Linked DNA regions of Homo sapiens. The protein of the gene in region 1 interacts with the protein of each later gene in a pairwise test. Each region holds a gene or a part of one and is shown on either strand. Other genes may lie near its edges.

Region 1 (7,272 bases):
GTGAGCCACCACACCCAGCCAACACATGTCATTATCCATATGTCCAAACCTATAGAATGTGCAACGCTGAGAATGAACCCTAGTGGAAGCTGTGGGCTCTGGGTGATGATGTGTGCATCTGGGCTCATCAGTTGTAATGGATGTACCACTCTGGTGCAGGGTTTTAGGGTGGAGTAAGAGGCTGTGCGTGTGTGGGGCAGCAGATATATGGGAACTCTCTACTGTCCACTTAATTTTGCTGTGAACCTAAAACTGCTCTAAAAACAAGCTTTTTTTTTTTTTTGGAGACAGAGTCTAGCTCTGTCACCCAGGAGGGAGTGCAGTGCCATGATCTTGGCTCACTGCAACCTCCACCTCCTGGGTTCAAGCAATTCTATGCCTCAACTCAACCTCCTGAGTAGCTGGGATTACAGGCATGAGCCACCGCACCCAACCCTAAGCTTATTTTTTAATATAAGCAAACATTCTCCTCTGTGTATCACCTCTAACCTCTGTTTGGGATCTTGCTTATAGTGCTGCGGTGGGCGTTGGTTTCTATGGAAACAGCGAGACCAACGATGGGGCGTACCAGCTGATGTACTCCTTGGACGATGCCAACCACACCTTCTCTGGGATCGATGCTCTGGTAAGGCTCCCGGGCAGCTGGCCGGGTACAGGCACAGCCCACAAGGTCAGCGTGGTCAGAGCAAGGGCCCCCGTCAGATCCCAGCTAGCTCAGCTGCACACGGAGGGGCTGTGTGACGCCTGAGGGCTGGACCCCCGCCTGCGCTGCAGTTGCCTCTGCTGGGGCAAATGGGCAATTGTGCGTTCCAAGCCTGCAGGGGTGGCAGGGATGGGGGTGAGGACTAAAGGAGGCAGCTGTGGGATCAAACCCCATTTTCCAACAAGCCGAACACTTTCTGATTTGTCAAAGGAGACCTTGAACATGGAAAATCAGCCCCACTGCATTTTTTGTTTTCATTTTAAGTGCTGCATATGGAGTATTGCAAGGTCCAGGAGATGCCAAGAGGAAAAAACTCTCTTCAGAGACAACTGAGGGCTGGGCGTGGTGGCTCACTCCTGTCTTCCCAGCACTTTGAGGGAGGCCAAGGCATGTGGAGCTCAGGAGTTTGAGACCAGCCTGGGCAACATGGCAAAACCCTGTCTGTACCAAAAATACAAAAATTAGCCAGTTGTGGTGTGGTTCCAGCTACTTGGGAGGCTGAGGCAGGGAGATCACTTGAGCCTGGGAAGCGGAGGTTGCAGTGAGCCAAGATCACGCCACCACACTCCAGCCTGGGCAACAGAATGAGACTCCATCTCAAAAATTAAAGAAAAAAAAAAAATTGAAGAGCCCCGTGATGTAAGGTAGTGGAGACCTGCCCCAGCTCCTCGGAGCTCTGGCTTCCAGGCAGTGACTCCAGGTGGGGGCTCACAGTGAAGGATGCTCTGGCCTGGCCAGAGGAGGTGTCAGACTCTTAGGGGAAGGGGAAGGCTACTCTGCCAAGCCAGGGCTGGATTTTGTGGCAGACGCTGCCTGATACACACGAGCCTTTTGCTGGGGCTGCCACCCCTCTGCTGGGGACCTGGCCCAGGGAGGAGCACGACAAGGGTGGACATCTGAGGACTTGGTTCCCTGAAAACTGCCTCTGCCTTTTCTACCCCAGCTGCCTGGAATTGGAGTTTTCCCACAGTTTGACCTTGGCCCCCACACACGTCATTCTCACTCTAAGCACCAGACCTTTTCAGCTGCTTATCCGAGCAGCCTCTGCCACAAAATCCAGCCCCAACAGGAGAATTTGGCCATTGCCCCGGCATCCTCCAGAAGAGGATTGGACCCCATTTGCCCCCCTCCTGCTCCCTTAAGCTCCTCTAAGGCTTTAATCCCTCAGTCAACAAGGGGGGTCGGGGGTGTCACCTTAAAGAGACAGCTGTGCTGCTCCTCCGTGCCCAAGTCAATTGTGGGAGGAGGCCCTGGCCTCCAGAAAGGGGCTGAGGGTGGCTACAAAACCAGGGGCCCTGGTCCTTTGCAGAGTTCATTCCACCGCCCGTGTCCACTGGGACCCATCCCCTTAGCTGAGCGCTGAGTCCCAGTGCGGAGATGCTAGTCTGGAACAGCCTTGCGCGGTGAGCTGGGGCGGCTGGGTTGGAGGAGCTGAGGGACAGCCAGCTCAGGCCTGGGAGGCAGAGGTGTGGCCTGCCTGGGGAGAACTCTCCCTCTGGGCACCCACCCTTGCCCCAGGCCCTGGTGGGGAAGGGCCCCATGGTCACTGCCCTCTAGGCTCTCTCTGCCCCTCCCTGCCATCCTGCTGCCTGCCTCCTCTTCACCCACCAGCACCAGGATCACTGGAGGAGGAACCTAGCCCCGAGAGGAAAATCCCCTGCCCTGCCCAGGAAGGCACCAGGGCCATGACCTTCACGGGTTTAGAGAAACTCCCAGAACTCCCTTATGGGAAAACATCAAGTCCTAGAAGTCCCTATCCCACAGGACGAGAGCTGCCAGGGAGGGGAGCTGGAACGGGCCCCCAGGCTGGGGCCTCCCACCCCATGGCCTGATGGTGCTCCAGGGCCAGGTTTGGACATTTCACAGCAGGTTCCACTCTCTGAAATCCCTGCTCCAGGGCCAGGTTTGGACATTTCACAGCAGGCCCCACTCTCTGAAATCCCCTGTGTTCCCAAAGAGAAGGGTTCTGTATCCCTGGAGATCAGCCCCTCGTCCTCTCCGTTGTTACCGAGAAGTGAGGTCAGGAGTCCCAGGGCTTCACACTGGTCCAGCCAGCCCATAGCTGCCTCCAGCCTGTGGGTGGTCACCTCCCCCTCTGGCGTGAACCCCTAGGGCCCAGGTGTAGCTGCTGCCTTGCCTCCAGGTGGAAAGGTGGCACTGGGTCCTTACTAGGACCTGTGAGGCTGGTTTGGGCCTCAGAGTGGACACCCAGCACACCAGTCCTCAGGGCTCCAGGGGAGGCAGCAGATCTTAGAAGACTTCCCAGATCCAAGGGGAGAAGTCCGGATATCAGATAAATGACTAGTGAGATAATGTCAGTGAAAGTGCTGGTAGACTGTAAAGTACACTCAGCTGTATGACTGTGATTATGAGTGCTATTAATTACTGTAATCACCTTGGGGTCAGCGGGAGGCTGGGATCCAGGACGCTGTGGGCGGCAGAGGCAGATGGGGGACTCGTCGACAGGTCAGGCAGGACCTGGATCTGGGCCTTGCCAGAGGCCAGATCATGCAGCTGAGTGGCCAACAAGAAGCCCTCTAGGGATGCACCCACAGAGTGGGGTGGGCCCTGCTCCAAGTCCTCCTTTCCTGGACTGGAAGCCCCATACCTATGCACGTCCAACTAGAGGGACACCTGTGCCTTGGTGGGTAGGGGCGGTGGTTCAGGGATCAGGCGGTCCTGGGAGGGCTGCACGCCCCAGTCTAGGGGAGTAGAGAGGAGTCGTTTTGGGATACCAAAACTTCCTGTACCTGGTAGCCAGCACGGCCCCTCCAGGCTCTCTCATGTGAGTCTGCAGCAGGCTGATGGGCAGCCCTCAGATGTAGAAACTGAGGCACAGGGAGGTTGCATTGCTGACCCGAGGTTGAAAATGTGTATGTTTCAGAGCAGAAACCAGAACCCAGGCCTCCTGGTCTTAGCCCCTTACCTCCACTGACCTGGCCCATCCACACTTCCAGATAAGCTCACTGAGCGCTGGAGAGTCCTCCCTCCCAGAAGTTTTCATACTTGAGCTTGCATCAGAATCACCTGGAAGGGTTGGTAAACACTGATTGCAGGGCCCTGCCCCCAGAGGTTCCGCTTCAGCGGTCCTGGGGCAGGGCTGAGAGCTTTTGCTTTTGTGAGTGAGTTCCCAGGGGGTGCATCTTACGCCCCTAGTCCCGGGACCACACTTGAGAACTGCTCTTTCCTCTAGACCGTGGTCTCCGCCACCTGTAGCTCGTCCCTAAGTCTGCCCAGCCTGGAAAACTGACCTGTCCCTCCTGTTCTCAGAGCTTTCCGTGAGAGAGAGCCTGATTCCATCTCTGGGTCATCCCACCTGTCCCTGCGGGGAGTATTATGTCCTGAAACTTTAAGGAATTGGGGATGGTATAGAGAAGTGGGGAGTTGTAAGTAGGTCACTGCTGTCATTCTTATTTTTTAAAATTTTAGGATCTTTTGAGCCTAGGAGTTCAAGAACAGCCTGGGCAGCATAGCGAGACCCCATCTCAAAAAAACAATTTTTTAGTTTTGTTTCCTGTGGGAAAATATCAGGAAGAAAGAGAAGGCATGACAAATACAAATACTGCCTTCTTTTTTTTTCCCCCTAAGGAGGAGTTTAAGAAATAGAGAAGTTAACTGTGAGAGAGTAGAACTGTGAGGGAGAAAACAAGTGGCCTCACAGAAAAAGTTTACAGATAATTTTTTAACAGCCCTTTACTCTGAAGTTTGTTTGATTTATAGAAATATAGAAATATAGAAATGTCACCTATTACTGGGTTTGTTCAGAATGGCACTATTCTTTGATGATAGTGCCATTTGTATAAATGTTTCCAAAGTGGTTGTACATTTATCTTATTAAATTGAACAGCCAAGTGTACTAGCATGACATTTAGTTACTGAATGTACTTTTACATGGTTTGGGGTCTTTTCCCCTGTGCTTCGGGCTGTCGAATCTGCACATGGTAGAGTGTCTCCGTACTCTGGTATCTCTTAGTCCTTAACCAACTCGTAAGAACCAAGCATAAGCCAGAAAACGGAACAAGCCGCTGACACTGAAAAAATAAAACAAAATGAAACAAAGAGAGCCATTCTCTTTTCTGGAACTAGGAACTCCCAGCGTAGCGCAGATGTAAAAGGCCACACAGCTGATGTGAAGTCCCCATAACACAGAGAACACCGTTGGCCTCCGAGAGTGGAATCTAATCGGCCTTGCTGATCTCACTGTGGGAAGTTTCTGCCTCTTCTTCTGTGTCGTTTTTATCTCCCAGACCCGTGGGAGCTGAAGGCTGCCGAGTGTGGATTAGTGCACACTGCCCCACTCCCGGCCCGTTGTGCTTCTTGGTTTAGTGTGACAGTTTCAGAACAACAAAGCCCTTTCTCCGCTCGCTGCCAGCAAGGGCGTGCTTGGGGCTGCCAAGCTGCACCCCGGGGTTCTGCAGGCACCCTGGGTCTGGGCTGTGGGAAAGTCCCGCTAACCAGTACGAGCCCTGCCTGTGCTCTTCAAAAGCCAGCTAGGGTTGACCACTTGGACCATTAGAAATGGATGCACATGGCCGGGCGTGGTGGCTCATGCTTGCAATCCCAGCATTTTGGGAGGCCGAGGTGGGTGGATCACTTGAGGCCAGGAGCTCGAGAGACCAGCCTGGCCAACATGGTGAAACTGTCTCCACTAAAAATACAAAAATTAGCCGGGCATGGTGGTGCACACCTGTAGTCCTAGCTACTTGGGAGGGAGGCTGAGGCAGGAGAATCACTTGAACCCGGGAGGCGGAGGTTGCAGTGAGCCAAGATTGCACCACTGCACTCCAGCCTGGGTGACACAGAGCGAGACTCCATCTCAAAAAAAAAAAAAAAACAAAAAAGAGAAAGAAAGAAATGGATGAACGGGCTACTCTGGCACACTGCCTAGAGGGTAGCCCTGCTCTGCAAGGAGCAGTACCTTTAAATATAAATAAATAAATAATGTTTTTAACTGGATGGCCAGCCGTCAACTTTCTATTTCTGTCTTGCATTGGCAGATGTTTCCTTCAGGGTCCACTCAACCCCAGGCCCTTAGGGCTCAGCCAAGGGACAGGAGCCTGTCTGCCCACCCAGCAGGACACACATCCAGGGGAGGATGTGAATACAAGGAGAAGGCGCCGGTTTCCTCCTCCTGCCTCATGTCCAGGCTCCTCAGAGACAGGATCGCAGCTGTTTTTGTTTTTGCAAAGTCCCATTGTCCTGCCTTCACTCAGCGTTCAGGACCCGGTGTGCTGCGGCTAGTGCCACAACAAAGCTTTTCTCTTATAGAACAATTAGAAATCCTATTGTGGGGATACAAGGTCAAGGTAGCAACATAGAGTCTGTTTCTCTAAAAGAGAATTTGTAAGCCAAAGTGCTGAAAGTTTTAAGAGAATCTTCAAAGAATAATGGATTATTTTGTTGGTTTCTCCATCTGGGTGTCTCTGTATATAGTAAGGTATAGTAATGAATGCATACGTTTATTCCAGCCCTTTACAGCAGGGGCCACGTGGTGGGCACACAGGATAGCCTCCTTAGTAGAGAGCAACAGAGGCTCCAGAGGGCAGGGATGTGCCCACACTCCCAGCGCCAGAGGCTAGACCTGGCCTCAGCCTGCAACACATAATGGTGTGCTCCTTTGGCGCCAGCATTCTCTCTCTCGGAGCCCAGATCCTGTTTAAGGCCAGGTCAGGGACTGCCCCCTGGTTTGAGGGACATGAGGACTGGGTGGGTAGTGGCGGCCTCTGTCTTCAGTCCTTCCTCCAGGGGCACAGGCTCGAGATCTTCAGGCCTGGGGCAGCATGGTGTGTTCATTCATGCCTAAGCAGGCCAGGCCAGCTTTTTTTTTTTTTTTTTCGACACAGAGTATCACTCTTGTCGCCCAGGCTGGAGTGCAATGGTGCGATCTTGACTCATTGCAGACTCCGCCTCCCGGGTCCAAGTGATTGTCCTGCCTCAACCTCCCAAGTAGCTAGGACTATAGGTACATGCCACCACACCTGGCTAATTTTTATATATTTTTTTGTAGAGACAGGGTCTCACTGTGTTGCCCAGGCTGGTCTCAAACTCCTGGGTTCAAGCAATCCGCCTGCCTCAGCCTCCCGAAGTGCTGGGATGACAGGCATGAGCGTAATTATCGCACCTGGCCAGGCCACCTTCTGCTGCCTGCAAAGACCTCTTCCGGGATGAGAATCAGAAGCTCTACCTCCATGGCTTTTGCCCCCTGCTCCTCCCTAGGTTTCCGGAACTACCCAGAAGATGAAGGTGGACCTAGAGCAGCACCTGGCCCGGCTCAGTGAGATCTTTGCTGCCCGGGGCGATTACCTGCAGACCCTGAAGTTCATACAGCAGATGGCGGGCAGCGTTGTTGTTCAGCTCTCAGGACTGCCCGTGTGGAGGGAGGTCACCATGGAGCTGACCAAGCTATCCGACCAGACTGGCTACGTGGAGTACTACAGGTGAAGGACCGGTGGGAGGCAGAGGGAGGGGCAGCAGCGGCTACATCAGCTTTGTTTATCCAAACCTGCATGTTGAGCTCCAGGTGGAGAAGGGCCACTGGAAAGTATTTTTTTTTTGTTTTGTTTTTTTAA
Region 2 (7,272 bases), on another chromosome or scaffold:
CTGGTGAATTAAAACCTGAAGAAGAAATAACTGTAGGGCCAGTTCAGAAATTGGTTACTGAAATGGGTACCTATGCAACTCAGAGTGCCCTTAGCAGTTCTAGACCCACCAAGAAAGAGGAAGACAGGTAATTTATGGCACATATACCCTGCCAGCTGTACTACTTTTATTATTACTCTTGTATGTAAGACAGTCAAATGATTTCTTTCCTCTTGCTTTTGCAACCAAAATGAAAATCTTTGCCATTTAAGGTACTTGAGAAGCGGAGGATGTTTAAGTTCTTCCCCCTAGGAATTGTATTGATGGTTTTAATTCTCTGTCCCTTCCAGTGTTTTTATGGAAATAACTGTTCTGTTTAAACTCAAATTATTTTTACTCAGAAAATGCTAAGTGGGGGTAACTGAAGATATTTGAGTTTTGTTGTTTATTAGCATCTGAAAACATTTTGAAGATTTTTCAATTTCTAAATGATGGAATAAAATTGTGCATTTTTCTATTAAGTAAATTTTAATGGTGAAGATGGTGAAATCTTTGCCTAAAATTTTACTGAATACCCACTAAGTGCTAGGCATTGTGCTAAGTAGTTTGTCTCATATAGTCTTGACAATAAGCCTTTGAGATAGAATATATTATCTCCATTTTATGGAAGAAGAATTTGAGGCTTACCCAGTAAATAAACAGGTAAGCTGGAATTCGGAGGTACTTCATTAGCTGCAATTACGTATGCCCCTAATTAAATATTGTATCTTTCCATATTCTGATGGCTTTTGTGTCATTCAAAGATAAGTTTTCTTTTTTTTTTTTTTTTTTTTTTTTTTGACACAGAGTCTTGCTCTGTCGGCCACGCTAGAGTGCAGTGGCGCGATCATGGCTCACTGCAACCTGTCTCCTGGGCTCAAGCAGTTCTCCTGCCTCAATCTCCTGAGTAGCTGGGATTACAGGTTTGTGCCACCATGCCCAGCTAATTTTTGTATTTTTAGTAGAGACGGGGTTTCACCATGTTGGCCAGGCTGTCCTCGAACTCCTGACCTCAGGTAATCCGCCCGCCTTGGCCTCCCAAAGTGCTGGGATTACAGGTGTGAGCCACTGCACCTGGCCAAAGATAAGTTTTAAAGTCATGTATTATTTTTCTTTTTCCTTCTTTCTTCTGGGAGCTAAGGAGTTAGTTAGCTAAGGTATCCTTATCACTGAAGGATGGTAATAAGAGTGTTTAATAGGCCTATATCATTCATTTATACAGAAGCTGCATGCTGCTTAGCAAGTTGGTGGGTTTGATTTTCCTTGGTTGCTTTGCAGACCTCCCTTGAGAGGATTCCTTCTGGATGGAGATTTCTTTGTTGCTGCCTCCCTTGCCACAACTCTGACCAAGATTGCATTGCGCTATGTAGCTTTGGTTCAGGAGAAGAAAAAGCAAAATGTAAGTTCATTTATTTTACATTTAACCAACAATTAAACATTGAGTGCCTACTATATGCATTGAACAGTGAGGGACTCAAAAATTAATGCTAAGTTTCTGTCATGAAAGAGTTTATGATTTAATAGCAGAAGTGGACACAGTAATATATTACTCTAAAATTGATAAAGTATCTTCCTCTTCTGTTTGGGCTTTAAAAAAATGAAAATTGACAAAGTAATACAATAACAATGTCATGTGATTATTCCAGTGGAAGAGAAAGGATTTATGAAGTCACCTCAGTTTGCTGGGATTAGTTCAGGACCAGTGAAGGAAATGTCCTTCTCTCCAGCATCTGCATCCATTCGGTCATTGTCTGTTTTATCCCAGAATGTCTCTTAAGTTATTCTCATCTGTAGTTCATGCCTGCTTTGTAGCTTCTGACCGTTCTAACCAAACACCCATTTACAATGGTATGCAGTTGGTCCTCCATATTCACAGCTTCTGCACCTGCAGATTCAACCAACTATGGATTGAAAATATCTTTTTTAAAAAATGATAAACAGTAAAAAATAATAGAAAGTTGAAAACAATGCAGTGTAACAATTATTTACATAGCATTTACAGGCATACTTCATTTTATTGTACTTTGCACATATTGCTTTTTTTTTTTTTTTTAAACAAATGAAGGTTTGTGGGAACCCTGAGTTGAGCAAGTCTGTTAGCATCATTTTTCCAAATAAGCATATGCTCACTTCATATCTCTGTGTTACATTTTGGTAATTCTCACAATATTTCAAACTTTTTCATTATTATTACATCTGTTATGGTGATCTGTTATCAGTGATCTTTAATGTTACTATCATAGTTGTTTTGGGATGCCAGGAACCATTCCCATATAAAATAGTAAACGTAATCAATAATTGTTGTGTGTGTTCCGGCTGTTACCCCGTCTCTTTCCTCCTTGGGCCTCCCTATTCTATTCCCTGAGATACCACAATATTGAAATTAGGCCGGTTAATAATCCTACAGTGGCTTCTAAGTGAAGGGAAGAGTCACATGTCTTTCACTTTAAATCAAAAGTGAGAAATAATTAAACTTAGTAAGGAATGCATGTCAAAAGCTGAGCTAAGCCAAAAGCTAGGCTGCTTTTGCCAAGTAGGTAGCCAAGTTATGCATGCAAAGGAAATGCTCTTAAAGGAAATTAAAAGTGCTACTCCAGTAAACACATGAATGATAAGAAAGTGAAACATTTGGCAGGCGTGGTGACTCACACCAGCACTTTGGGAGGCCCGAGACAGGCGGATCACGAGGTCAGGAGTTCGAGACCAGCCTGGCCAACATGGTGAAACCCTGTCTCTACTAAAAATACAAAAATTAGCCAGGTGTGGTGGCAGGCGCCTGTACTCCCAGCTACTTGGGAGGCTGAGGCAGGAGAATTGTTTGAACATGGGAGGCAGAGGTTGCAGTGAGCTGACATCACACCACTGCACTCCAGCCTGGGAGACAGAACAAGACTCCGTCTCGAGGAAAAAAAAGAAGAAGAAAGAAAGCGAAATAGCTTTATTGCTGATAGAAAGTTTGAGTGGTCTGGATAGAAGATAAAACCAGCCACAAGATTCCCTTAAGCCAAAAGCCTAATCCAGACTAAGACCTTAACTCTCTTCAATTCCATGAAGGCTGAGAGAGGTTAGGAAGCTTCAGAAGAAGAGTTTGAAGCTAGCAGAGGTTGATTCATGAGGTTTAAGGAAATAAGCCCGTCTTCATAATGTAAAAGTTTGACATGAAGTAGCAAGTCCTAATGGAGAAGCTGTGGCAAGTTATCTGGAAGATCTAGCCAAGATCATTGGTGAAGGTGACCACACTAAACAACAGATTTTCAGTGTAGACTAAACAACCTTATATTGGAAGAAGATGCCATCTAGGACTTTGGTAGCTAGAGAGAAGTCGGTGCCTGGCTTCAAAGCTTCAAAGGATAGGCTGACTCTTTTGGTAAGGGCTAATACAACCAGTAACTTAAGTTGAAGCCATTGCTCATTTCCCATTTTGAAAATCCTAGGGCTCTTAAGAATTGTGCTTAATCAACTCTGTCTGTGCTCTGTCAGTGGAACAACAAAGCCTGGATGTCAGCACATCCTCTTTACGGGATGGCTTACTAAGTATTTTAAGCTCACCATTGAGACCTACTGCTCAGAAATAAAAGACTCCTTTTAAAATATTACTGTTCATTGACAATTTAGCTGGTCACCCAAGAGCTCTGATGGAGATGTAGAAAGAAATGAATGTTTTCATGCCTGCTAAGACAACATCCATTATGCTGCCACTGATCAAGTAGTTTCAACTCTTATTATTTAAGAAACAGAATCCATAGAACATTTGTGGTAGTAGCGCAGAGTTGGTTACAATGTCCTACCACAGCAATTTCTGACATTCAAATTGGGCCTGTAGCAATGGGACTCCTTTTGATTCCTTCAGCTTTCGTATTATGTTGGTTATCTATACAGCAGGTTTCTAAATTGAAACACTTTCACTCACATCACTCATATTTCCTTCGTTTTTGGAGACTAACAGCTTGATCTAAAAAAAAATTTTTTTTTAGACGGAGTCTCACTCTTCTTGCCCAGGCCGGAGTGCCATGGCATGATCTCAGCTCACTGCAACCTCCGCCTCCTGGGTTTAAGCAATTCTCCTGGCTCAGCCTCCCGAGTAGCTGGGGCTACAGGCGCCTGCCACCACGCCTGTCTAATTTTTTTTGTATTTTTAGTAGAGACTGGGGTTTCACCATGTTGACCAGGCTGGTCTCGAACTGCTGACCTCAGGTGATCCGCCCACCTCGGCCTCCCAAAGTGCTGGGATTACAGGCATGAGCCACCGTGCCTGGCCAGGTTCTTTTTGTTTTTGTTTTAATTCCATTATAAGAAAAGCCATAAATGAGAGCCAGATAATTTACAAGGTATATTATCCCTTAATTGATTTGATTTTTGAGCAATAATTTATTTTGTAACTCTTTTGTGGGCATTTATTTATTCAGGTCTGGTCACAGTATAATCTTTAAAGTATGTTTTTTAAAAGTCTCCAACATTTTTTTATCTCAGAGTTGAATTTGCTTTCCTCTCCTGGTTGCATCACTTCTGGAAGTTGGGAGTGTTTACTGATACCTGCTTAAAAGAGCCAGTTTCTTGTAACATACCGAGTTAATAATGTTTGCACTGTTTGGTACAAGAAGGAAGTTTGGTTGCTTATAATCTCACTGGCACTCCTTCATTTATGCCATTTCCAACACTCTTCATTTCTTTGTGTAGGACTAAGTTTCTGGTATCATACATCTTTTGCCTAAAGAATTTGCTTTAACTTTTCTTATAGTGCAGATTTGTTGGCAACAGATTGTTCCAGTTTTTGTCTGGAAAAAGCCTATTTTTTTGTACACTTTAGAAAGTTACCTTTGTGGGTATAGGATTCTAAGTCTTCTGTTTTTTTTTCCCAGTAGTGTAAAAGTAAAGCTCCATTGTCTTCTGGCTTTTTGGTGAGAAGTCTACTGTCATTCTTATCTCCCTGGGTGTAGAGAGAGAGAGAGTGTGTGTGTGTGTGTGTGTGTGTGTGTGTGTGTGTGTGTGTGTGTATTTCTTCCACTGGTTTTAGATTTTCTCCTTTTCACTTGGTTTCAGTAATTTGATTAGGATATGCCTTAGTGTGGTTTTCTTCATGTTTGCTGTACTTGTGGTTCATTGAGCTTGTTGGGTTTGCAGGTTTATATCTCCATCAGTTTGGGAAATTTTCAGTCATTTCCTCGGATTTTTTTTTCTGTCCCCTCCTCTCTTTCCTCTCCTTTTGGAGACAGTATCCAAACTTGGGGGACATATACTTACTCTTCTGCTGGTTTTTCCCAGGCCTCCAGTAGTTTTTCATGCATGTGTGCAGATCAGTACTCAGCCAAAGGCAATTTGGCAAGGGCTTAGAGCATATGTGTCAGGATAATGCTACATGAGACTAAAAAAGTAAGTTGCAATCACTTGTGGAAGACTTTGAATAGCGAGCTAAGTAATACGGACTTCAGTATGAAGGCTGACATTCATTAAAGGTATTTACATAGGGAATGAAATGATTGGTGCAGTATAAAGATTAAGATAGCAGCATCAGGTGATCACGCTTAGCAGCACAATAATTGGACAGCCTAACTTTAGGTACCTTGTGATGCAGTACAGGGTGAAATACAAAACATCACCTATCTGGTATTCTAATCAAAAGTGTGGGATATTCTATAAAACAACTGGCCTCAGTTCTTTAAAAAAGTTAGTGCGATTAAAAACAAAACGGCAGAGAACTGGTCTAGATTAAGAGGGATAAAATGCATGAAGCTGATCCTGGATTTAAAAAATAAAACAAAAACATTTTAAGACAATTTAGGGAGATTTATTTGAATTCAGAGTATAGAAGCTGTATTTTGGAATTGTTGAATTTTTCAGATGAGAAAATGAAATTGTGGTTTGTAGGAAACTGTTCTGACTCTTAGGAGATGAATGCTGAAGCATTTATGAGGTGAAGACTTTTTCACATGTCAGCCAAAAAAAATAAGTGTACATATACAGAATAGGTAAGCAAATGTGGCAAAATGTTAACAATTGGTAAAGTATATCATTCTTTTAACTTTTCTGTAGTTGGGATTAAAAAGGACAGCATCAGCATATGAAGTGGTTACAGAGAAGGACTGGAGCAAGGGAAAACAGTTAAAAAGCCTCTGCTGTCTCTAATTGAGGATTAATGCAGGTCTTAGAGAGTGGCAGTTAAGAGTAGAAAGGAAGGAGAAGAATGCAAAAACAGATATGGACATAAAATCCAAAGAATTTGAAATCTTATTCAGGTGAAGTGAAAATTTAGATTGTGAGTTATAATGAAGTGACATGATTGCAATCTGAGAATCAAGACAATATCAGTAACCGATTTCTTTACTTTCTTAGTCTTTTGTTGCTGAGGCTATGTTGCTCATGGCTACTATCCTGCATTTGGGAAAATCCTCTCTTCCTAAGAAGCCAATTACTGATGATGATGTGGATCGAATTTCCCTGTGCCTCAAGGTCTTGTCTGAATGTTCACCTTTAATGAATGACATTTTCAATAAGGAATGCAGACAGTCCCTTTCTCACATGTTATCTGCTAAACTAGAAGAAGAGAAATTATCCCAAAAGGTAAGGTATATATGATGAGGCAACAAAAGTGTTTTGTGTCTCTTCGTGCAGTGGCTCACGCCTGTAATCCCAGCACTTTGGGAGGCTGAGGCAGGAGGACTCCTTGGGGCCAGGTGTTTGAGACCAGTGTGGGCTACATAGCAAGCCCCTGTCTCAACAAAAAAAATGAGAAAATTAGCCAGGCATGGTGGTATGTGCCTGTCATTCCAGCTACTTGGAAGGCTGAGGATGAAGGATCGTTTGAATCTAAGAGTTCGAGGCTGCAGTGAGCTGTGATCATACCACTGCACTCCGCCTGGGCAACAGAGTAACAGCCTGTCTCAGGAAGAAAAAAAAGAAAAGAAAAGTGCTTTGTGGGTTTTCTTGTTGTTTTGTTGATTTTTCAGTTTTCATATGTGAGGGCTGTCTCTGTCAAAAGCCTCTAAAAAACTATCTTTTCATATTAAAGAGAGACTTTGTTATATTCTCAACACAGAAAGAATCTGAAAAGAGGAATGTGACAGTACAGCCTGATGACCCCATTTCCTTCATGCAACTAACTGCTAAGAATGAAATGAACTGCAAGGAAGATCAGTTTCAGCTGAGTTTACTGGCAGCAATGGGTAACACACAGAGGAAAGAGGCAGCAGATCCCCTAGCATCTAAACTTAACAAGGTAACAAAATGTCTGATAGACTCTAAATTATTTAAATCGAC

What was found.
Region 2: the proteins of TTYH2 (region 1) and COPB1 interact in binary tests that used the Homo sapiens proteins (3 or more experiments, as listed by UniProt).

The regions. Positions count from the first base shown.
Region 1 is NC_000017.11:74,230,375-74,237,646, forward strand, and holds part of TTYH2 (protein tweety homolog 2), read left to right. Parts: intron 1-513; coding exon 514-625; intron 626-6,919; coding exon 6,920-7,140; intron 7,141-7,272. UniProt on the Homo sapiens protein: Calcium-independent, swelling-dependent volume-regulated anion channel (VRAC-swell) which plays a pivotal role in the process of regulatory volume decrease (RVD) in the brain through the efflux of anions like chloride and organic osmolytes like glutamate.
Region 2 is NC_000011.10:14,468,640-14,475,911, reverse strand, and holds part of COPB1 (coatomer subunit beta), read left to right. Parts: coding exon 1-127; intron 128-1,296; coding exon 1,297-1,417; intron 1,418-6,348; coding exon 6,349-6,576; intron 6,577-7,051; coding exon 7,052-7,231; intron 7,232-7,272. UniProt on the Homo sapiens protein: The coatomer is a cytosolic protein complex that binds to dilysine motifs and reversibly associates with Golgi non-clathrin-coated vesicles, which further mediate biosynthetic protein transport from the ER, via the Golgi up to the trans Golgi network.